Homo sapiens: one gene and its partners. The protein of the gene in region 4 purifies or fractionates together with the protein of the main gene of each other region. This does not show direct contact. Each region holds a gene or a part of one and is shown on either strand. Other genes may lie near its edges. The genes, in order: PDCD4, ASAH1, PCDHGB4, AAMP, DICER1, MKLN1 and INPP5K.

Region 1 (3,500 bases), on a different chromosome or scaffold from region 4:
ACGTTATCAATCAAATGTATATTTATTAGTAGTAGTAATGGACATAATTATATTAAATAAGTATGATGGATTTCTGACTCCTTTCAAACTTAGAGAATATACGTAAAACTCGTAACAGTGAAAAACATCAGTGTATATTTTGCTGGAAATAAATCGTTAACATTCTGCTCAAGAAAATTAAATCTACTCAAACAAGAAAAAACATCAACCTAAAGAAAAAGTGAGATGGTTCTCACATTATTACTAAGTAAAAATATATACAAACTGTAAAGCCTTACATTTTCACTTTTTGAATCTCTCTCATTCCTAGAACAAGGAAAGTGTAGTACAAGAACCAGACAATTTTTTTCCACTTGTTTATCTTCCATTTGTTGGACATGATATATACCAACCTTTCTTTGGTAGTCCCCTTCCTTTCCCAGATCTGGATCGCCTATCCAGCAACCTTCCCTTTGGACTGGTTGGCACAGTTAATCCACTTCTAAGGGCGTCACTCCCACTGTCGCTGACCGAATCGCCTCTGCCAGAGTCCCGGGATGAGTTTTTCCTTAGTCGCCTTTTTGCCTTGGCATTAATTCTAGCTTCGTTAATGGAGGATGCTGAAATCCAATTTCCATTTATTTCATTCTTTATTTCCTCAGTCCCAGCATTTTCTTCATCACCGGAAAAGAGAGAGTCACTTAAGTTATCAGGATCTTAAAGAGAAAAATGAAGAAAAAAATTCTAAGTATTTTAAGTATCTACTGTTTTATAGATATAGTGGTAAGTTAGATTAGGTTGAATCACATGACATTACCATTTTTGTAGGTAAATTACAGTCACATATTGGGAATTTCATCTACTTCAATCTAATAAACAACTAAATAAGATTACTTTTCACATTATCAAGGAAAGTAAACCAAGGCACTGAATTTTAACAAAGCATGTTTGTTTCTTACCAAAAACAAACCAAATTTGTTTGTTTTTACCAAAAGAAGCATGTTATTTCACGTTTAGATCATAAAATCTATGCTAACAGCAACACCAAATATAAAACCCTTAGACTTTTATGAGCTAATTGGAGATATTAAGAAAAGACAAAGCATCTTGAGAAGAGAGATAAACTAATATTTATAGAATGCCTACTATTAGGCACTGTGCTAGACACTCTATCATTTATTTATGCACAAGTTTGGCAGTTAATTATTATAACATTGAAGACAGATAAGGAAACTAAGGCTGAGAATGTTTAAATGATTTGCCAAACGTCCCATAACTAGGTATAAACACTTAAGAACTATTAGTAATCCAAAAGAGAATGAAAGGCATTTAGCAAATAATCGCATATGATTGTTGAGCTGAACTGCTGATGCTTTACTGCCTCAAGACAAAGTTTGCTTTCAAGAAAAGCCAACATCTCAAAGTCCTAATTCATCTCCCTAAACTTTTCTCCTATTACTTACCATCCTGTAAATCTTCCAGCCTATATAAAATTGATTCTTCTGAAAGAGATCAACATACTGGAGTTCCCAGTAGAATGTCGCCCTCACTGTTATTTTCAGTTATCAAAATCCTTTAGGATATAGCCCAAGTCTTACTCCCTGCATTAAAACTTCCCTTACAACTCTAGGTACAGGAACACTAATTGCTCACATACTATTCATTCAACACGTCATGGAAATCACTTTCTTTTTATATAGCAGTCTTTTTCTTCCAACTAAGTCATAAGCTTCAAAGGAGAAACCACAACTAGACTGTATGTCCTTCTTTGTATCCCCATCACCTAGCAGAGTGTCCTTCATACTCAAATTCCATGGAGATCAAGTGGAGGCACTTGGCTTTGCCCTGAAAGCTCTTTAAGTCAGAAAGGCTACTGAATTAGCTACCACTGGGCCACAGTTTTGTTCATTATTGTTAACGCAAATCAGAGCTGAATCACTCAAATCATTTTCTATATGCCTAAAGATAATTATAACATGTCAGGTCTATGTGCATGGGCTTTAATATGTTTTAAGACATGTTGAAACCAAAAATTTTCACCAACCTATAAAAAGCATACATGTGTTTAAATCTTTACAATTCTTGACATACTTAGGAAGGTAGGAATGTTTTGTTTTAAACAAAATCATCAATTAGAGCCAAATTATTTCACTAGTCTCATAAGTAGTCTCCCTGCCTCCAGTCTTCAAACTATACTGAATGAAGACTGATTTTCTCAAGCATGCCCTCACTGAAGATCCTTTAAAAGTAGTCCCATTATGTCACAAAAAATGTAAACTTTTTTTTTTTTTTTTTTGAGACAGCGTGTCGCTCTGTCACCCAGGCTGGAGTGCAGTGGTGCAATCTCAGCTCACTGCAAGCTCTGCCTCCCGGGTTCACGCCATTCTCCTGCCCCAGCTGGGACTACAGATGCCTGCCACTACGCCTGGCTAATTTTTTTGTGTTTTTAGTACAGATGGGGTCACCGTGTTAGCCAGGATGGTCTTGATCTCCTGACCTCGTGATCCACCTACGTCGGCCTCCCAAAGTGCTGGGATTACAGGCGTGAGCCACCGCACCCAGCCAAAATGTAAACTCTTTACCTTGTAACTTAAGGTCCTTTATGATCTTGCCCCTGCTTACCTCACCAGAATCACTGCTAACTACTCCCACACTCAAATTGTCAGAGCTTAAGTTAGATATCATAGGGAAGAGATGGGAGGGATTCATTTGGCAGAAGAATACTGAGTATATTACAAAAAGAGAAAGTATAAAGTAGGAAACCGCTAAGAAAATGCTTCAGTAATTCAGTCACAAGCTAACTGGTAAAGAGCAAGGGTAGTAACTGTGGGATAAATAATAATGTTACACTTTTAAAGAAAATAATGAAGGACTTTTAAGCAGAATGTATCTAGGATTAAAGAGAAGTCAAACAATGCCTTAAAAGTTTTCAAACTGGTAAGAAGCCGGTGTTAGGATGGTGTGTTTGGGACATCATCATAACCATCAGTAGTAATTATAGTCTTAGTGGAAGTAGTCGTAGTACTGTTTCTTTCATCATTACCATTACTATTGTCATCTATTAGATACCAGGTTCCACACTACCTGGTACCTATTAGATTCCACACTACCTGGTACCTATTAGCTAAGGCACTTTACATATGTGGTCTATAAGCTTCAAGAGCTCTAGAAAGAAACTGTTTATCCTCATTTTACAGAAGGAATGTGTTTCACAAGAAGTTACATATCTAGAAAGGATTATGGCTAGAATTCAAACCCACATTTTTAATCCCATATAACTACAGAAAATACAAAACTAGAATACAGCAGAGTATTGACAGCTAAAGAGACGAACAAGGGCGTGAATGTAAAGAGAGATAAACAAAAATGATTAAGTGGAAGGGGACAGAAAGATCAGGATCACATAAATTAGATGACATTTTCGTGTAAGAGTGGATGGTTGAGAAAAACATTAAACATCTACCTGTAACATAGTGCTTTCATCATTGTGCCATTAAGGTGAACCACAAAACTGGTCCAGA
Region 2 (3,500 bases), on a different chromosome or scaffold from region 4:
TTAATTGATATTGATGTTCTTCCCAAAGTCCAGGACAAGGGTTCTCAATGACATGTAAAATAATTTCATTTTCCCTGGACACAATACTTCTGCTACTACAATCGAATACAATTTAGGTAATCCACCATTGGTAAATGGCTTTCCTTATTTTGCTAATAAATGAGCTACTTAGAGACTTATAGGGGTTGCAACTTAATTTTACTTTGTAAAATTTGTAAATAAGTTCTGCTGTGAGGAGATACTCCGCTTTACATTTTCTTGTTTATCTGACCATTGTTTTCCTATGAGTTGGGAATACTGTGATGGGTACTTAACCCAAGTGCTTAATTTTATGATCATGTTGTGGACTTAAGACCCTGCTCCATTAGTGACTTGTAGAAAGTTACACAGCTGGTGACAGAATCAGAGTCAATGGCTTTCCCTGTTCTATCAAACAGCTTCCCACAGAGATAATAAAACCAATGCCTCAATTTAATTCCTAACAGAATAATCTGCGCGTAGTTCAGGGCTTCTGGTGATCACTAGAATCAACTCGGCAAATTAAGTGAAACGTAATGACTCCTATCCCTTCCTAATAATGACATTTGCACGCCCTGGGTTCCAAAGCCAAAATAAACATCAAATTACAGGCACATTTCTTACTAGACAACTGTGAGCAAAGTTGAAAATGCTCTGTCTAGTATTAGGAGAGAATGTGACCTGCCCCAGAGGTAAGAACTAAAGAGCAAGCTAGCAACAATACATGTGGAGTGAGTCTGAGGTTGATAACGACTCTTGGTAGCAATAAACAAACGTGAAATTGGCATAGAACCTGGCTGCAAGGAAATAGGATAAGTGTGACAGAAAATAAGAAAGTTGGCAGCTATGAGACTACAGTATTTCAGGGGCTCACATGGCATGAACGCCTAAGTCGTTTATGCAAAAAGGTTAGTTTTAGGGGTAGGGTGGAAAAAAGAGCTACTTCCTCCCCCTCAAAAAAGAATTCTACAGGGAGACACAGCTTCAAAACCCACGAGTAGCCCTAAAACAGAATTATAATGAACTTACTTAATGTTATTTAAAGTTCCTTACTATCCCCAAGTTTATAAACAGTTTAATAACAGACAACTCTATTAAGGCAGGTAAAAACTTAAATAGATGATAGGTAAAGATTAGAAACAGATGATAAGAAGAGAGATTATGTGGTCTGGATGGTATACTATGTACACCCTATCACAGGAAACAAAATCCAACTTAGAATCAATTCTCTCTAACCCTCTCCCCACAGTACCTCTCTTTCTCTCTCTCTCCCTGCCCTTCCCTACCTTTCTCCCTGCCCCTCAGTGGTCTCCTAAGAGTGAAGATAAGTGGTAAAAATCTGATATTTCAATGCATTTGAAACTCTCTGGGCCAGGCATGGTGGCTCATGCCTGTAATTCCAGCACCTTGGGAGGCTGAGGTGGGTGGATCACCTGAGGTCAGGACTTCAAGACCAGCCTGGCCAACATGGCGAAATCCCCGTTACTACTAACAATGCAAAAATTAGCTGGGTGGCATGTGCCTGTAATCCTAGGTACTCGGAAGGCTGAGGTAGGAGAATTGCCTGAAGCCGGGAGGTGGAAGTTGCAGTGAGACGAGATAGTGTGACTGCACTCCAGCCTGGGAGACAGAGCAAGACTCCATCTCAGAAAAAAAAAAAAAACAAAAAACTCTCTGGAAAGTGCTTTTAAAAGACTGTTTGGGTCAGAAAATTCTCTAATTTTTCTGGTTATTTGATAGAAACTTAAGCCTCTTTGAATGTCCTCCCCATTCATTAAGAGAAATTAATTACAGAGCTACTGAACACAACATTCTAAAAAAAACACAAAAATATAAAGAGAACATTAAGGTCTCAATGAAAGCGCCATACCCTTAAAAAATGGCATAACTTGTACAGCTCCTTAAAATATTTGAGCCCGAAAGAATTAGGAGACCCTCAATGAAATAATGTATGCTTCTAATAGTGAATTTTAAAAGTCCAGAAAGCCCTTGTGTGCTTGTCTTATTGAAATACTCAGAAAGAGACAATGAAGGATAATCTAAAATTACATACCTCATGTCAGTTTTCATACCCACCAGAAGCCAAACAACTCTAGCCAGACAATTTTTCATTCATTCAATTCTTGAATTCATCAACAACTATTTTGCAGACAAGTTTTTCCTATAATGTCCTCTTATGTACAACTCAGCAGAAACACTGAATACAAAGAGGCATGTTTCCTACGTGTACAAGAATTCACATGAGCTTGAAAATGTTTTCACTTGTCTTCTGGGCTTTGATGGGATGGCATCCTATTAAGCTACTGATATTTAGGTCAAAGGAATGTGAATAAACCCTCCATGAGAGGAAGGACCTCATCTATCTCATTGGCTGACGCATTCCCAGCGTTTAGGAGTCTGGCACATAGTAGGCAAGCAGTATTTGTTGAATAAGTGAATGGATTACACCTGTGTGTTCCCTCTTTGGGAGAAGTAGGGAAAAGCAGATGAAGTGCAATAAATTCCTAGGCCAGATGGGGTCTATGAGATTTCTGGCAACTGCGTGAAAATCATTGCTAAAGCTGATTCAATAGCTAATGTCAACAATGTTGACATACGCTGTTAACTAGTATGAGAAGCTGATGCATAAAAATGAGTTTACAAGTTTACTTTGGCAATTAATTACTAAGCCATTACGTTTCATCTTCGCACATCTTATGAAGTGGGTCAGATTTATTACGCAGAGCAGCCATCTCTCCCCTCTAGTTCCTTTCCTGCCAATCACACTTAGCCTACCGCAAGCTGTTTTCTGCCCCCAACACTGCTCCAGTCGAGGTGACCAATGACCTCCAGTTGCCCAACATCATAATACCACTGACATCTCAATAATATTCAACATAGTTAACCTGTCCCAGTCTCTTCCCTGAGCTTCCTGTTCCACTTACTCTCCTATTTTTTTGTTTTTGTTTTCTGTGACGAAGTTTCGCTCATTGTCCAGGCTGGAGTGCAATGGCAGGATCTTGGCTCACTGCAACCTCTCCCTCCCAGGTTCAAGCAATTCTCCCGCCTCAGCCTCCTGAGTAGCTGGGACTACAGGCGTGAGCCACTATGCCCAGCTAATTTTTGTATTTTTAGTAGAGACAGGGTTTCTCCATGTTGGCCAGGCTAGTCTCAAACTCCTGACCTCACGTGATCTGCCCACCTTGGCCTCCCAAAGTGCTGGGATTACAGGCATGAGCCACCGCGCCCGGCCTGTCCTGTTTTAACTTTGGCAATTTCTCCTCTTCTTGACACATACATGTGCAAGTTACTTAGCCTTTGCCTAGTTCTCTTTTCTTCTCTTTCTCTATCCTATTTCTAGGTAAGTTCATCTGCTCCAAGGGCTTCAAATATAATATCATTATGCCAGTGACTCTCAGTGTCTCTCTTCTGAGTGCCAGTCCGAGTGGCCTGCTGGATGCCTCTCTGCCACCTGAAATTTAACATACACCCCAAATGAAAAC
Region 3 (4,266 bases), on a different chromosome or scaffold from region 4:
TGGCTAAAAAACAAACAAATGTTGGGCCACACAATTGCTCCTACTTTACTCCTCCTTTGTAGAATGATATGACAGCTTTTTAACTGACTACAACTTTCCTAAAATGATCCATGACATCTAAAAATTATATATTTTCCTGCAAATATGTATATTTTCTTGTGAATATGGAGAAATGGGTAGGCAATGAGCATTAAATTATACTTAAAGGAAACTCACCTGATGGGAAGTCAATTCACTGGAATTACAAAGTGGAAATAAGGCCCCAGATGAATCACCGCAAAGTATGTCTTGTCCTGAACTCAACTGCTCACTACATTTTAGGAAATTAAACTCCGTCTTTCCTGTATGTGCAACACATAGATTGTAGGAATAAGGCAAAGTCCCCTCGCTGTAGTTGGGGGGAACCACGGATTCGGATTTAACACAGAGACCAGGCTGGAAGCAGCTCCAGGAGGCGGGGCTGGAGGAGCGTCGCAGGCGCAAGGCAATGGCCAGAATCATGGCCACGAGGAAGAGCACTGAGATCAAGGCCAAGGCCACCACTAGGTAAAACTGCAGCTCAGCCTGGAGGTCAGAGGGGTCGGGGCGGTCAGTGATATCCGGCAGCACCTCCTGCAAGCTGTCGGCGAAGACCAGGTGCAACGTGGCAGTGGCCGAGAGTGGTGGCTGTCCACCGTCACGCACGGCGACCAGAAGGCGCTGGCGGACGGCGTCCCTGTCGCCTAAGGCACGCGCTGTGCGCACTTCGCCCGTGCGCAGCCCCAGGCTGAAGAGCCCGGGCTCGCTAGCCTGCAGCACGTGGTAGGACAGCCAGGCGTTGTGTCCTGAGTCTGCGTCCACCGCCACTACCTTGGTCACCAAGTAGCCAGGCTCTGCAGCGTGCGGCACCATATCGAAGAGCGCAGAGCCGTCGGGACCCAGCGCGGGGTACAGCACCCGTGGCGCATTGTCGTTGCGGTCGTCCACTAACACGCGCAGGCTCACGTTCGCGCTGAGCGCTGGCGAGCCCTGGTCGCGGGCCTGCAGTGTGAGTTCGAAGGCGCGCAGCTGCTCGTGGTCGAAGGCGCGCTGCGCGAACACCACCCCGCTCTCCGCGCTTATGGACACGTAGGATGACAGCTCCCGCTGCTCCAGGTCACTGGCCATGATGCAGTAAGAGACTTGGCCGTTGGGCCCCAAGTCCGGATCAGAAGCCCTGACTTGTGAAATAGAGGCTCCAGGCGGGTTGTTCTCGGCCACGTGGACTATATAGGAAGACTGTGAGAAAACCGGAGCGTTGTCATTTACATCACCAATGTGCAGGGTGATGCTGGAACTGGAGGAGAGGGGAGGCTTGCCCCGATCTGTTGCCGTAACGGTTATATTGTACTCTGGATTCTGCTCGCGGTCTAGAACAGCATCTGTCACTAATTTATACGTGTTTCTTGAAGAAGTTAATATTTTAAATGGAACATCACCTTCCAATTTACAAGTCACTTCTCCATTGTGTCTGGAATCCTTGTCACGGACTTTGAGCAAAGCAATATGTGTTCCCAGCTCGGCGTCCTCCATAATTAGGTTGGGTAGAGACTGGAATATCACTTCTGGGGCGTTGTCATTTTCATCTATGACTTCTACCTCCACTGTGCATTGCGCAATCATTCCTCCACCGTCCCTTGCTTCCAAAACTATGGAATATTCTTTGACTTCTTCAAAATCTAATGTATTTAAAACAGTAATTTCCCCGGTGTTAGAGTTCAGGTCAAATTGGGTGATCTGGCTAGCTTCACTGAAAGAGAAAGTAATCTCGGCATTGACACCCTCATCCTGGTCCGTGGCAGTCACCTGTAGCACCGTGGTCCCCGGGTACACGTTTTCTGAAAGGCTCACCCTGTATACGTCTTGACTGAACACTGGAGCATTATCATTGGCATCAGTCACTAGAACGTGTATCTGTGCAGTGCTGCTTAGGGGTGGAGCTCCAAAGTCCAAGGCAGTCAAAGTCAAGTGGTAGGATTTCTGCTTTTCTCTGTCCAAAGGTGTCTTCAATACCATCTCAGGGTATTTACTGCCATCTGATTTCTCTTTATTTATCAGTGAGAAATGATCACTGGGACTGAGTTGGTAATTCTGCAGTGTGTTGCTACCAATATCCGCATCATGGGCAGATCCTAATATAAATCGTGTGCCAGGCTGTGCAGACTCACTTATTTGCAGCTCAAAGGAATTTTGCGTGAATTTTGGCGTGTGGTCATTAATGTCCTCGATCTCCACATTCACGTGATAAAAGTTCAGTGGATTTTCAGCAACAGCCTCAAATTCCAGAGCACAAGCTGGCTTCTTCCCGCATATCTCCTCCCTGTCTAGCCTGCTGCTCACAAGCAACTCCCCGCTCTCTGCGCTCACGGTGAAGTAAGGCTTCTCCGAACTGACGCGCAGTTTTCGAGTCGGTAACTCCTGGACGCTGAACCCCAGGTCCGTGGCGAGGTTCCCCACTACGGAGCCCTTGGGCATTTCCTCGGGAATCCTGTAGCGGATCTGCTCACAGAGCGCCGGGCAGAACAAAGACAGCAGGAAGAGAAAGAGCACTGGCAGCCTCTCAGCCCGGCCCAGCTCCCCGGCGCCGCTCCCCATCCCTCTTGCTCTCCTCAGCTTGCTCACCAGCCTGGAGACGCCGGGTTACAAATAACCTCTGTATTGCAGATTTTTGGATCTCCGAACGGACTTTAGTTGCAGTTCCAGTTCAAGAAAAAATTCTTCTTTTTCCGAGGAGGAAGCGGTGTAAAGGCTGGCGCTGGGGAGTCTGAGCTGGGGCTGCCCTGGAAAGCGCGCTGCGGCTGCGCGAGGAGATCTGGAGCGCCAAGCTCTCCACTTTGGCCAACAGCGGCGCCCAGAGTCAGCACTAGGAAACTACAGCCTCTGCTGCTTCAAGTTAACCAGTGCAATAATTATAATTGTGTGCCTAACTGAAAGAACAAAAACTACGTGGATACGTCTGTATATTTAATGACGTCTAAAAATGTACTCTTAGGAATGCCTTCATCCCAACTTTGAGGATTTTTAGGCAAATCATGTAGATTAAGTACATAAACATTTATTGACATAAGCTTTCCCCAATCTTCAAACATGCACTATCTATATAAAGATAGCCATAACACAGACTTGGCCTAAACCGTCTCAGAGTACAGTAATTTTCCATACTTACTCATTAGAAATATACTGGATACATTTTATCTTTCTTTCATTGTTCCTAACATTTTCTCCACTTTTCTAAGTACCTCCAAGTTGATTTATTTCAACTTTTTCCGGAGAGTATCAGTAATACCAAAATTGCCTTTTAGAAGGTGCAATTTATACTTATCTTCAAATACACCCCCTTCCCAATAGTTTCAGTGATTTCATTACAGGAATATTATGTGATTCTCATTTCGATGATCACAGGCAGTAGCCTACTCCTCTCCTCATTACACAATTATTTTACTGGTTATGAAATACAACATTCATCTTCAAAGTTATCAGGGGGATAATACATAGCCTCAAAACACAAAGTCACTGAGATCTGCTGCACTGAAGCACTGCTTCCTACCTCTGCACTTATTTTACATTCCTTGGTGACCTCTGAATTGAAGGAAACAATCCCTGGAAAGTTTGATTGCAATAGCTCACTGAGTTTAGTGATTATGTCTCTCCATTGCTTAAAAACAATTTTATGCATCTAATAAATTTTGGTCAGGAGATTTTCTTTTACAAAATACCTTATAACCGTAGTTCTGCCATAGGATCTTCCCTCAGTAACATTGTTGGTGTCAGCAACATTGTCTTCTACCCCAAGTGATTGTACATCTGAAATGTGAACACTGCAGAACTTGTAAAATGTATCCAGCCTGGGTGACAGAGCGAGACTCCATGTCAAAAAAAAAAAATGTATCCCCCACACTATTGTACAGAGTCTATCATGTGCAAAATACTACCAAATACAACACTAGTCTAAAAAGAGTCTTTTTTTGAAGAGACAGAGTCTTGTTATATTATCTAGGTGGGCCTCCAATTCTTGGGTTCAAGCTGTCCTCTTGCCTCAGCCTCCCATGCAGGTGGGCTACAGCTTGCAACACCATACCTGGCTAAAAGTGTGTTTTTAATTAATACTCAAAGGTCTCTGGAATCAAGATTACCTTGTCATCCACCCCTTCTGGATGACAATCACTTGATATACTGAGCTTTACTAAAATGTTATACAAAAGAATATGGAAGTAGTTAATCCCAGATTGGGTTATTTCCAACTGAATT
Region 4 (3,509 bases):
TGTGGGGAAGAGCCTCCCGGGACAGTCCCGGCCCCAGCATTGCCTACCACCCAAGCAGCCAAAGCAGTGTCGACCTGGACTTGAACTAAAGGAAGGGCCTCTGCTGACTCCTACCAGAGCATCCGTCCAGCTCAGCCATCCAGCCTGTCTCTACCGGGCCCCACTTCTCTGGATCAGAGACCCTGCCTCTGTTTGACCCCGCACTGACTGAATAAAGCTCCTCTGGCCGTTTATGATTATCTCATTCCATATCTCAGGGCGAGGCAGGAGGAAATGGCTCAACACACCAACAATAGAAAGAACCTACAGACATACGCGTGGATTAAGGCAGAGTCCGACTCCAGGCAGGCAAGAAGTGTCGTGCGCACAGACCACCCCTGGAGATGGGGAGCTGGCACATCTCAACATCCAGCCGATTCTGCGGGACAGCCTTGCCCTGACGGGGCCCTCGCTAGCTCCTCCTAGGGTCCAGCCATCACAAAATCCACACAGACTCTGTCTCTGGGAAGTATATTTTATTTACATTTTTAAAATCTTTAACTAGTATCTCTTCCTCCTTTCCACCCCCAGAGACTTGGGAAGGGAAAGAACGGGAACCTCAAACACCTACTCCCCACATACAAATACACACCCCATGGCTCACACCAGCAAATGAAAGTGAAAGAGAAACAGGTCCACCCCTCCCTCTGAAGGGCCCACCAGGTCTGGACAAGGGTGGGAGGGCCCTGGGCTGGGTCTCTAAAGAGAAGAAAAGGAGAGGGGAGCAAGTCAGTTGAAGAGGCTGGAAAGTCATCCAGGGCCCCACCCTCCTCTTCCCTCTGTGCCCTACTGCCTCTGCTGGCAGACAGGGGCAGGGGTCCCTTCGTCCCCTCAACACCAGACACACAGGCAGGGGCTGCAGCCATTAACGGTCAGGCCTTTGGACACAAAATACTTTCGCTTTGTGGTCTCCTGACGTGGTCACCACCAGGGAGGCATCTCTGTAAACAGAAAGCATGTGATTGCAGAGACTGGGGGACCCAAGCCCACCACCTAGGGGCCCTAGGGTGGGCTCCTCCAGCACACCCTCAGTTCTAGGGCCCTAGTGCCTAGCACTGGGCCGACATCTCTGCAGCCAGCATGGAGGGGATTAGAGGAAGCCCCCAGCACGGGAGAAGCAGAGCTGACTCCGATGGGGAAAATCAGTCTCAGCCTCTCCCTCATGACTGAGACGTGGGGCCCCGGAGGGTCACTGTCAGCCACTGGAATGGGGGCTGGGCTGTGAACCCTCAGGCTTCTCTGCATTCCTGCCTTAGGAATCCCTTCCCACACCCCAAGGATCCTGTGTCCCCTACATACTACTGCCACCTTCCAAATACACAAAGATCCCAGCCCTTGGCCAATTCACTTACTTGCTGAGGGCAAAGTCCAGGATCTCAGCCGTGTGGCCCCGGTAGTCAGTAAGCAGGCGGCCGGTCCGGGCGTCCCAGAGGCGCACGATGCCATCCAGGCTGCAGGTATATACCACGGCAGTGCCTGCCTCCCACAGCAGCTGCACGATGCCCGACTGCCCCGAGGAATGACAGAGGCAGGGCGGAGGTTGGCAGGAGAGCTGAGAGCCATCTGCTCCCAATTCTCAAAGAGGGACAGCCACACACAAGGGCCAGGCAGGAGCCAGATCTGGGGTAGATGCTCCTGGAGGCCTGGGCTTCCCCACCACTATGGACACAGCCCACAGGGACCCCAGCTCCAGCTGCCCATACCTGGTGCTGACACTGATGCCTAAGAGTCTGCGTAGCCAGGTCATAGATGGCCAAGGTCCCATCCAGGTAGCCAACAGCTGCCAGGGGCATCCTGGCCAGAGGAGCGTACCATGAAGACTCATGAGGGCCTGGACTCACACGCCCTGCCGTCCTCCCGGGCCCCCAGCCCAGGCCCCTCCCACAAACCCCTTTCCCCATCCTCACTCACACACTGCAGAAGCCCAAGGACTCCACCGAGTTGGACTCACTCTCCTCCCCTTCTCCCAGGCTGGGCTGGGAGGCCACAGTCTCAGGTCTAAAAACACCCACCACCTGAAAGCCAGAGAGGATCAGAGGAGGACACGGAATCCGGGTGCTTGATGGAGAGAAAGACGGTGGGGAGAGGAGACAGTGAAGACCCAGGAAGGAAGGAGAGGAGTCGGGAAAGCGGAGGCCCCAGCCGGGCTCCAGGTCCACTCACCTTGCCGGTGGTGGCACTGACCAGCTTGGCCTGGCAGTCCACAGAGCCAGTTAGGATCAAGCTGCCATCCTGGTTGGCAGCAACACAGGTGAGTGGGCCCTGGTGACCCTCAGTCCCTAGCATAGAGCAGGGAGGCAGCTCAGGCTTCGTCCTACCTCCCCTCTGAGTCCTGCCCCAGGTTCTCAGCCCCTCCCTACAAAGGCCCAGGCTAACACTTCCCCCACCTCTGATACCTTTCAGTACATGGATAGGGCTTCCCTGCTTCAGGTCCCAAATCCTGATGGTCCCATCTTCATAGCCTACCACAGCTCTCTTCCCTGAAGAGAGGCACAGATGAAGAGAGGGCAGAGGGCACGCTCACATACACTAAGCAAGGGAATGGGGAGAGGGAGAGGAAAGAAGAGTGGAAGGGCCCAGACACTGCCCCAGGAATCACAGGTGAGTTCAGAGCAGGAAGGAGGCGCTGTGAACTTTGGGGCCCAGGAGGTCAGCACTGCAAACAGCAGGCCTCAGATTTTGCCGGCTGTGACCCAGAAGGCTGCTCTGGGAGGTGTATATCCCGGGATTCGGCCTCTGCACCCAGGAAAGGTCACTCAAGGGAGGTGCTCTCACCATCAGGGAGGACTCGGCCACAGGTGGCTGGGCAGTTGGGACCCTGGAAGGTCTTGCAGTCACCATTCGGGACTTTCCACATCCAGGTGTTGCCGTCAGCTGTGCCCGCCAACAGGACAGGTGCCCGAGGATGCCACTCCATCCACTGGACAGGGAGGAAGGGGCAGCAGGGAGGCCCGTCACCCCATCCCACCTAGAAGCCTGCCCCATGAGCTCCACCCAAGGTTTCCTGCCTCTGGGGTTCCGCGGGGACTTTCCAGGTAGCAGGTAGATATTCTTCCTGTGCCTTGGGGCGCATTGGCTCAGAGCTGGCTTGGCGCAATAAAGGCAGAACTGGCCTCCCAAGCTTGCACCCCCAACAACCCAAGGCCCCACAGAGCTGACTCCCGCTCTGATGATCTTACCTCCAGGTCTCCCGCTTCAAAGGACCAGACCTCCTCCTTAGTGTCCACCTGCCACACTTTCAAGAGGCCACTCATGTCCCCTGTGGCCACTAGAGTGGAGTCATGGCTGAAACCAGCACAAGTCACAGAGTCTTTATGGCCTTCAAAGAAAAGTGGGCAGAAAACAGAGGAAAAAAATAGGGTACCTGGTGCTGGGGGCATGTGATTCTGGTATCTGGCCCACTGAAAGGACCAGCTAGGAAAAAAAGAGGGGCGGGACTGAGCAGAACAGGTGCTGGAACTCACCACCAC
Region 5 (2,901 bases), on a different chromosome or scaffold from region 4:
CACCTAATTTGCTCAAAAACTCGTTTAATAATTTAGATCTCAATTTAAGTTTAAGATTGGAGACAACAAAAAACACTGGAGAAGCTTAATACCCCCCTCACTCAGGGTTCCTTAGAAAGCAGAGCTGACAGTTTTCTGTCGGTGCACTCGCACAGAGGCATTTCTCTGTGGGTGGATGATGCAGATAAAGCAGGAAGGACAGTATTCAAATGTCACTTACATATAAATGCAGCATTCCACGAAGCATCAAGTTCAGAATCATGTGCTGGGAAATATGAGACACCTCTGCTCAGCTTTCTTAAACTTCAAGCATAATTAACGGGGCAAATTGCAGCAAACCTCTACTGGTATGTTGATGGGAGTGCAAGACTGACCCACAGCTTTTAAAAAGGTAAATTAAGAGGTATTATAGTTACAGTGCAAAAAAAAAAAAATTAAAATTTCAAGCATAATACATAAACATAGCACCAAACAGGGGAAAAATGCATGCAAAAGAAAAGAAGAACTGAGGTATTTAAGTGAAGAGTGCCTACAAGTCTAATTAAAGAAACTTAGGCAAATGCCTAAAGAAGTTTTTTTTTTTTTCCTTTTCCAAAGATGGAAATAATGAGCTAGTTTATCTAAATTAATGACCTAAATCACAGATGTATCAAAATTACGGCAGTTTATCGCAAACGTTAAACTTTCACGGCATTAACAGCACAGCTTTGGTAGGTGAAATATGCATGCAACATTATGAAAAGTATAGTAAGAAATTTATGTGAGGAGACTAAGGGTAAAGGTGCTGTGTTTTGCTTCTTAAATAAGTAACCAATCAATTATAAAATCTGCAGCATATTTTAGGTGTGATATGTCTAAGGTTTATTTTGTTAGAGCAACAGCCTAGAAGGCAAAATTATTTGCCATAAACATTTCCATCAGTGGGAACTACCTGGCAGGAGGACTTTAGTAAAATGGGGTGTTTAGCCAAAGATCATTTTTATGATAAAAAATATCCGTAGACTACATATTCTGGTTTTTAAAATGTCTTCAGTATACATATGACAGAAATTTTAGTATGATCCTGTAATAAGTTACAACTATACTAGTGAGTTGTAAGTATCACGCTGTCTCAACGTCTAATGCATAATAAAATGAAAGGAATGTAAAACAGTTTGTTCCAAAAAGATCAGAGATTAAAGACTATCCATGAAGGTTTCACTTTTAAGGCAAGAACCCTTTTTTATGCAAGACTATGTGGCATCAGAAAACTAAAATGTGATTCACCAACATGCCAGCCAATGTTCATTAAAAATCTGTCCCTTACTATCAGGTGCAACAGCGACCGGGAACATCACCTTACACAGTATAACGTGGAAAGAAAAGACAACATTGGCGCACTTCTCCTCTCGAAAACCTTATCTTTCTATTCAGCTTATCAACTACTGCAGGACTGGCACTACTGCACACACGGAGAGATGGAGAAGAATCTACATCATCCTAGGGACTGCTGGAGGTTTAAGCTCCATGGCCTTCTAACACTAAGCAAAGCTGACATAAACTCAAAAAAAAAAAAACAAAACCTGTCAATTATTTTGAGCACTTGCTAAATGTCATCATTAAAGCACTCTTGTGATTTAAACAAAGCAGAAGTGAGGAAAGAAGATAAGATTGTGTTTGCGCAAAAAACTAAAACTACAATTAGTTCCAAAATTTTATACATATGTTAAATGTTTTATTCTGTTATCTATCCTGTTATCAACCAAACTTTAAATTCTGCCTTCAATTCATTCCACTCACTAACAACTTTAAGTCTTCCTTTCCGATTTAAATAATTTTCCCCTTAATTTTTTTTGTTTTGTTTCTTGTTTTGAATTTTAAAAAGCGGTTTCAGCTATTGGGAACCTGAGGTTGATTAGCTTTGAGGCTTCGGAGGGCTCTTCTTGCTGCTGCAGATTTGGCAATCCTGTAACTTCGACCAACACCTTTAAATTTCCCCTTTCCTACTACTTCCACAGTGACTCTGACCTTCCCGTCGTAAGTTCTCTCAGCCGGGCTGTAAAAAATCCAAACAGCTTGAATTAGAAGTCAGAAGTATTTATTATCATTGTCAATCAGCATTTAGTGTGCACTCTCAGGCCAGGAGTCCCATGTATAAGCTGACACCACACAAAGGAAACACGCGTTACGACTTACTGCAATTGCATACCCCCGACAGACAGGGCTGCCGTCTAGTCTTTATTACAGCATTATTTCATAAAAACAGAAGGAAAAAAGAGAAGTCAATCAGATTACAAACAGAAATCTGACAACAGCACACCACAGTGTAAATATTTTTCAGAATCATTAGTTTACAATATCTTTGTGAACTTTTCCCCTTTGATGTTTTTAAGTTAATGTTTTTTCCATGTACATTTTTTGCTTACCTAAATTTGGCAGTTTCTGGTTCCATTTCAAGCAATTCTCGCACAGGGGAACGGGGTACATTTGCAGAAAACTTTTCTGCAATCAAAATGAAAGAATAATATGAATAATATCTCTGAAGTTGTTTTTAATTTTGTGGGTTTTTTTCTTTCTAAAGGGAGCCAACAATACCTATTAGTGGCCGCATCATGGGATAGTACACCTGCCAGACTGTCTCCAGTGACATCCCACTATCCATGTAAATGGCACCAGCAAGCGACTCAAAAATATCCCCCATGGCCTTTGGAACTTCAATATCCTCTTCTTTCTCTTCATCCTCCTCAGATCTCCTAAGCTATTACAGAGGGAAAAGTGACTTGTAAGCAAAAAGGCCACTTTTACAGGCAGTCCACAGATGTAGTTTCTTTTCTTGGATATATGACTTTTGTTACTTCTTTAGTAAGGGGGGAAATACCATTTATGGTATGCCTACTATATTGTAATAGTAAAACAAATGTT
Region 6 (2,628 bases), on a different chromosome or scaffold from region 4:
TTTGATATCTTATTAAATTTGGGAGTGAGTTGATAATTACTTGGTATTATTTATAACTTGGTATTATTTGAGGCAACACACTACAGCTGTCACTTGCAAACACCTGATGGCATGGCTCTAATGGTGTAGGATCCTCTCCTTTGTTGTAACTGAATTTATAAAGATTTATAAAGCTCTGCCAGTTGCAATGGGATTGGGATTTATTCTACACGCCTCCTCTAATTTAATCAATCACTTTACAGATGTGGAGGAAACCTAAATAAAAAACCAAAATTATGAAATACTTCTAATGCCAAACCCAGATCTCATTATTGCTTGGCAAAGCAGAATTAACAGAGACCCTTGGGATGACATATAATTAATTTAAGGCAAGGAAACTAGTATCAGTTCAATTCTGTGTTACAAGTTATACATGAAATGACAATTTTCCTCCTATGTTAAAGGGCTAGAAAATAAAACCAACCAAATGACATGAGCTAAACTGTAACAAAGGCTTTCTTGAGATTTGTTAACAACGGAGAAATAAAGCTCAAAATTGGCTTTTTGAGTGGCTCCTTATTCATGCACACAGGCTTGTTCAGTATATCACACAGTGTTTCTTCTTCCTGCCAATTAATTTGGCATTCATTAAGTAATGAATGAAACTGAAGAATGATGATCTCCTCAGGCTTTGTGTGGCAGACAGCTCAGATATCTGAGCTAACTGCTGTGACTGCTAGCATCCCAGATGGTACAGAGCTATGTTGCAGCAAGAGCTTAAACTCAGTGAATAAGCAAGGGAGCCCCCAAACTGCATGTTGAAATGTTTTATGGCTGGTTTTCCTGCTGGATCCTTAACAAGGAACTGGTTGTATGTAAGAAGCTGCTCACCTAGTTTAAGATCTAGAGCCCATTAACACTGGATTTTCTGTTTTAAGATCTCAAACAGTTATTTGGAAGAAGGGAAATGCTACTTCCCAAGAAATGCTACTTCCCAAAGACTATTCAGAATTACTGAATATTCTAGAAGCATGAGCTTTGAGGCCTTTTGGTAGTCTTCTTCCCAGCATCTCATTAACAAAATTATTTTAGGGTTAGAAATGAAGAAATTTATTTTTCCTTTCGATTTGTGGACCTCTAAAATCCATAAGCAAAAAGCTCCTATTTTTCCTTCTCTAACATACCCTCATTGTCTTCTCTAGCTCGTTCCTGAAGTTTAATACTTCCAAGTCAAAATGCCTTAGATAAGCAAAATAGGACTTTGCACACAAATGTTTAATAGTTCACTGAGGCTGTCTGAAAAGCAGATAAAAAGGAAGACATTATTTTATAATTAAAAGTGATACCTTAGAACTGGTCCAATTCCCTACCAAACATTTCCCCTTTTTTGCCATTGATCCTACAGCTTTCAGACAACATTCATGTTAAATTCTGTTTTCCAGCAAGCTCAGCAGTGTTTGGGGATAGACAGCACATTGCAAATCTTATTTCCAAATAATGATTCTAATTAAGAAGATAAACTAGGACTACCCTTTCATTTTTGTGTTTTTAAGCTGTTAAGTGGGATCCAGTTCACAATATAAAACTTTAGCCAAAAAGACAGTGATAATTTCCCCGATGGCATTTCTCTCTGCACCACTAGAGAAACTAATTTACTATAACCTCTAATGACTCCTTAGGTTAAGGGCTACAGAAGCTACCGTCAGATGATTTCATTGGCTATGACTGGCCTAAGAGTTAGTCATTTGGAATTGGAGCTAAATTCACATTCTTTTTTTTTTTTTTTTTTTGAGACAGGGTCTTGCTCTGTTGCCCAGGCTGGAGTGCAGTGTCGCAATCATAGCTCACTGCACCCCAAACTCCTGGGTTCAAGTGATCCTCCCACCTCAGCCTCCCAAGTAGCTGGGACTACAGGCACATACCACCACACCTGGCTAAAAAACAAAAATATTTTAAGTAGAGATGGAGTCTTCCTGTGTTGCCCAGGCTGGTCTGAAATTCCTGGGCTCAAGCAATCTTCCCGTGTCAGCCTCCCAAAGGTCTGGGATTACAGGCGTGAGTCACTATGCCCAGCCTAAATTCACATTCTTGAGGGGAAGAGACATATATAAGGCTGCATTATTTTTATTTAAGGAAAAAAAAAGAAAAAGAAAAGCAATCATTTCATGGCAACTGAAGCCACTTCTAATATTCAACTATTTCAGAAGTTTAAAGTCAATTCTTAACACAAATTCTAACTTCAGCAGAAATCAATGTTACTCATGGGAGGTAGGAATAGAAACAAAAAGGTTAAAAAATACAATAAAAAGAAAAGACAAAAGGTAAATGGAAATTCTGATGATATGCTGAATTCAGGAACTCTGCTATCAAACCTGTACTTTACCAATAGTTCTATGACAAGAGATCCTAATGCCAGAAAAAGAGGCCAACACAGGTTTCTCCATTAAAGCTGCCACAGCCATTATTACTATCCCCAAATGAAAATGACTCAAGTACATTTATAGCAATATCTGAATGTTATTAATTTCTTATGAATTTCATTATTCTCTTGTCATAAATAAGGATAATAGAGCATTTGCCCCAGAATGATTTTGATCTTTTTTTTTCCAAGCAATACAATGTCCTACAGAATGCCACAGAAAATCTAGG
Region 7 (3,500 bases), on a different chromosome or scaffold from region 4:
ATTTGACATTGAGGCAGTTTCTCAGTGTATTTTCTCATTGATAAAGTAGGAATCCATCTCATAGATGCTGTGGGGATTATCTGAAAGCTATTATTTTTTGGTTTCAGCATTCTTTTTTTTTTGAGACGGAGTCTCGCTCTGTCGCCCAGGCTGGAGTGCAATGGCGTGGTCTCGGCTCACTGCAACCTCCACCTCCTGGGTTCAGGTGATTCTCCTGTCTCAGCTTCCCAAGTAGCTGGGATTACAGGCGCCCACCACCAGGTCTTGTATTTTTAGTAGAGATGGGGTTTCACCGTGTTGGCCAGGCTGGTCTTGAACTCTCGACCTCAGGTGATCTGCCTGCCTTGGCCTCTCAAAGTGCTGGGATTGTAGGCGTGAGCCACCGCGCCCGGCCAAGCATTCTTAAAAGGAAGGAACATAAGAGGTTTCCAGGATACTGGGAAATGCTCTTCTTTATCCCCTTCCCTTCCTCCCTCTCTCCTTGGAAATGTTCTTTATCCACCAGCTGCCCCCATTCCTCCCTTTTTACTTAGAGACAGGATTTCGCTCTGTCTACCAGGCTGGAGTGCAGTGGTGCAATCACGGCTCGCTGCAGCCTTGACATCCTGGGCTCAGGCAATCCTCCCACCTCAGCCTCCTGAGTAGCTAGGACCACAGGTGTGCACCAACATGCCCGGCTATTTTTGTTTGTTTTGTAGAGACAGGGTCTTGCCATATTGCCCAGGGTGGTCTTGAACTCCTGGGTTCAAGCAATCTCCCTGCCTCTATAATCCCAAAGTGCTGGGATTACAGGCATGAGCCACTGTACTCGGCCTGCTCTTTATCTAGATGTGGCTGATGGTAACATGGGTATATGCAAAAACCCATCAAAGTGTACACTGAATTTCTGCATGCTTTTCTGTGTACATTATAGCTCAGTGAAAAAAAAATAAGAAAATGCTCCCCCCAAACCCCATAACTATATACTGCGTGCAGCTGGGTGTCCATGAAGGCAACGCCCATGGAATGCCAGTGGGTAAGGACACATGTGCACAGGCTAGGGAGAATAGCTAACATCTGCTCAAGTGCCTCCTCTCTCATTTACTCCTGCCAAGCCTGTAAGGAATCACCGTCCCTGTTTTGTAGTTGAGGAACTAAGATTTAGGGAGGCTAAGGAACCAGTAGGGCTACCTGTATTGTAAAACAACATCAAAGGGCTAGGACTGCCAAGATCCCTACTATCTGCAGCTGCAAAAGGTGGGGTGGGAATGGGCCGCAGCCAGTAGCTCTCCCTCTCAGGTTCAGGCTGTCTACCACCGGCACCCGAGGAGCCGTTTCCGGAGAATGAAGTGTGGAGGCCAAGGAGGAAATCCCCGGGTGGGGAGCGTGTACTGGGGCCTTCCAGGAATTATGAAACTTGATCCTGCAGGCCACGAGCCCTGGCATAGCGGAGTCGAAGCAGGGGGAACCTCAAACCCAGCACTGGGTAAGGGAGGCATCAGAACTTCAGGTGGGCCAGAGGTTGCTACAGGTGTGTCCTCAAGCCTACTTCCTCCCCAGTCTTCTCTCTCCTACACCCAAGCACACGTGCCAACAGGGATGGAGGACGGGCTGGACCATGAGGGGCTGACTCCCAGGGTCAGGATTGAAGCAAGGGGACTGATAAAGACTCAGGAAAAGTTTCAGGCTTAATCCCCACCCACAAAGCAGCTTTAGGCCACTGGGTTCCACCACAAAGACACTGGCTCGCTTTGTGAAGGAGCAGCAGGGAAGTGGGGGCGGGGAGGGTGGGGTCGGGGCAGGACAGAGTTAGACTGGGAGAAAGGGTGGGGCTGTGGGAAAAGCAGGAGAGTTCTAGGGAAAGTTCTAGTTGGAGGAAATGAAGTAGGAGGAGCGAAGAAAGGACTAGCAGGAGGTGGCTGGGGGCCCTGGAGCAGTGGAAGGGGGTCAGCCCTTCTCAGTCTATAGCTGGCAAATGCACGGAGCTCACCCATCCACCCTGATTCTTGGCTGGGGAAAGAAGGGCATTCATTTTGGGTGCCAGGCCCTCAGTCTGGCCTCCCAATCTCAGTAGGCCACATGGGTAGAAAGGGCTGTGTCTCTGCCACAAGTTGAGCTAATTTCCTTGGCTCAATTCCATCCTACCAATCCTTTGCCAGTCAGCCGAGAAGCAAGGAGGCCTGCAGTCTTGGGAAGGGAGTGGCGGGTGAGAGAGAAGTGGTTGTGTCCTCTGTAAGGATCTAGCTCCCTATCTACAGAAGGAGGCCTCTGGGTTTGATGTGGAGGGAACCAAGGACTCGGGCTGGTGTTTTCTATCCTCAGCAGGAGTTCTAAACCTTAGATTCTTTCCTCCCCATTCTGCTCCCCCTCCAAAGGACACACAGCTCTTGCCTCAGTACCCCCAGGCAAACTAGGCTGACAGAATCCATTCTGAAGAACAAGAGTCATCCAGGAAGGGGAAAGAGGGAATTCTGGTATTTCTAAGCAGCTGTATACCAGGTGCTGTGAATGGGAGTGTGTTTCATTCCTCAGGTGTGCAGGGCAGAACCAAGGTGAAGGTGAAGATCTGGCAACCCAGGGCCTTCCTGTGGACTCTCCTACTGTCTAAAGACACCCCAGAGTATACTGGTCTCTCAGACTAAGAAAGCCGCCCAAAGTACCCACCACACCTGACTCCCCTCTCCTAACCTCTGGACCCCCAGAATCTGAAGTGCACGTCCCGTATGACCTGAGGATACCCTATGACACCAGCAGGCTAGCCACGCCTAAGATCTGTCAGTCTTAGAGTTCACCAGCATAGCAATAAGGTATTAGTAGTTAAGAACTTGGGTTATGAAGTTTGAGAGATCTGGATCCAAATCCCAGATAGCGCATGTGGCTTCTGAGCCATGGTTTTCTCTGTAAAATATCTCTATTTCAACAGACTTGTTAAGATTTTAAAATAACATATATACTATAAAGAGCTACTTATGATGTGTAACAACAAGTAAGCACTTGATAAATGACAGCCGTATGATTACACTCAGAGACTTCAGGATGGGCATTTGAGTAGAGACTGGTGGCTGGGGCAGCGGCCAGCACTGAGGTGATGACAAGCCCTGCTGCACCTCCCCTCAGAATCTTCCCAAGCTGAAACATATCCAGGTGTTAACCCAACCCCTGGAGACTCCAGCTCCCTCAGAAAGGCGAAGGCAGGCAGGGGCCCCGGGGTCCAGGTGGAAGGGAGGTTTAGCCCTTTAAACAAATGGGAAACAGCATGAAAGGCTGAGCAGGAGTAAGAGGAACACATCAGACCCAACAAGCAGGGGTCAGTGGAGATGTGAAAACACAGTTGTCAAGTGCCAATGAACTGGCAAGTTACCTTGATGAAGCTCAGAGGGGAAAGCACATCCATGAGGAAACTGCTCCACGAGTCATTAAAGGCAGCATCGGAAAGGAGGCTTATGATCCCAGAGTTCAATTCCTGCAAACTGACCATGCCAGCTCAGAGGCTTGGCCCCTGGCCTCCAGGCTACTTCCCC

Evidence for each region.
Region 1: the proteins of AAMP (region 4) and PDCD4 fractionate together in Homo sapiens (co-fractionation; one large-scale study listed by BioGRID). This does not show direct contact.
Region 2: the proteins of AAMP (region 4) and ASAH1 purify together in Homo sapiens (affinity purification with mass spectrometry; 3 studies listed by BioGRID and IntAct, with this or other methods). This does not show direct contact.
Region 3: the proteins of AAMP (region 4) and PCDHGB4 purify together in Homo sapiens (co-immunoprecipitation; one large-scale study listed by IntAct). This does not show direct contact.
Region 5: the proteins of AAMP (region 4) and DICER1 purify together in Homo sapiens (affinity purification with mass spectrometry, with the first as the bait; one large-scale study listed by BioGRID). This does not show direct contact.
Region 6: the proteins of AAMP (region 4) and MKLN1 purify together in Homo sapiens (affinity purification with mass spectrometry; one large-scale study listed by BioGRID and IntAct). This does not show direct contact.
Region 7: the proteins of AAMP (region 4) and INPP5K purify together in Homo sapiens (affinity purification with mass spectrometry; 3 studies listed by BioGRID and IntAct, with this or other methods). This does not show direct contact.

What each region holds. Positions count from the first base shown.
Region 1 is NC_000010.11:110,878,428-110,881,927, reverse strand, and holds part of PDCD4 (programmed cell death protein 4), read right to left. Parts: intron 696-3,500; coding exon 393-695; intron 1-392. UniProt on the Homo sapiens protein: Inhibits translation initiation and cap-dependent translation. May excert its function by hindering the interaction between EIF4A1 and EIF4G. Inhibits the helicase activity of EIF4A. Modulates the activation of JUN kinase.
Region 2 is NC_000008.11:18,077,608-18,081,107, forward strand, and holds part of ASAH1 (acid ceramidase isoform a preproprotein), read right to left. Parts: intron 1-3,500. UniProt on the Homo sapiens protein: Lysosomal ceramidase that hydrolyzes sphingolipid ceramides into sphingosine and free fatty acids at acidic pH.
Region 3 is NC_000005.10:141,386,232-141,390,497, reverse strand, and holds the start of PCDHGB4 (protocadherin gamma-B4 isoform 1 precursor), read right to left. Parts: upstream 2,801-4,266; 5' UTR 2,614-2,800; coding exon 217-2,613; coding exon of another isoform or gene 202-216; intron 1-201. UniProt on the Homo sapiens protein: Potential calcium-dependent cell-adhesion protein. May be involved in the establishment and maintenance of specific neuronal connections in the brain.
Region 4 is NC_000002.12:218,263,629-218,267,137, forward strand, and holds the end of AAMP (angio-associated migratory cell protein), read right to left. Parts: intron 3,359-3,509; coding exon 3,219-3,358; intron 2,960-3,218; coding exon 2,815-2,959; intron 2,520-2,814; coding exon 2,436-2,519; intron 2,319-2,435; coding exon 2,203-2,318; intron 2,055-2,202; coding exon 1,951-2,054; intron 1,834-1,950; coding exon 1,743-1,833; intron 1,547-1,742; coding exon 1,392-1,546; intron 981-1,391; coding exon 905-980; 3' UTR 501-904; downstream 1-500. Other genes in the region: GPBAR1 (G-protein coupled bile acid receptor 1), read left to right, coding at 1-89. UniProt on the Homo sapiens protein: Plays a role in angiogenesis and cell migration. In smooth muscle cell migration, may act through the RhoA pathway.
Region 5 is NC_000014.9:95,088,629-95,091,529, forward strand, and holds part of DICER1 (endoribonuclease Dicer), read right to left. Parts: intron 2,738-2,901; coding exon 2,575-2,737; intron 2,482-2,574; coding exon 2,406-2,481; intron 2,036-2,405; coding exon 1,870-2,035; 3' UTR 1-1,869. UniProt on the Homo sapiens protein: Double-stranded RNA (dsRNA) endoribonuclease playing a central role in short dsRNA-mediated post-transcriptional gene silencing.
Region 6 is NC_000007.14:131,491,876-131,494,503, reverse strand, and holds part of MKLN1 (muskelin), read right to left. Parts: 3' UTR 1-2,628. UniProt on the Homo sapiens protein: Component of the CTLH E3 ubiquitin-protein ligase complex that selectively accepts ubiquitin from UBE2H and mediates ubiquitination and subsequent proteasomal degradation of the transcription factor HBP1.
Region 7 is NC_000017.11:1,510,113-1,513,612, forward strand, and holds part of INPP5K (inositol polyphosphate 5-phosphatase K), read right to left. Parts: intron 3,450-3,500; coding exon 3,341-3,449; intron 1-3,340. UniProt on the Homo sapiens protein: Inositol 5-phosphatase which acts on inositol 1,4,5-trisphosphate, inositol 1,3,4,5-tetrakisphosphate, phosphatidylinositol 4,5-bisphosphate and phosphatidylinositol 3,4,5-trisphosphate.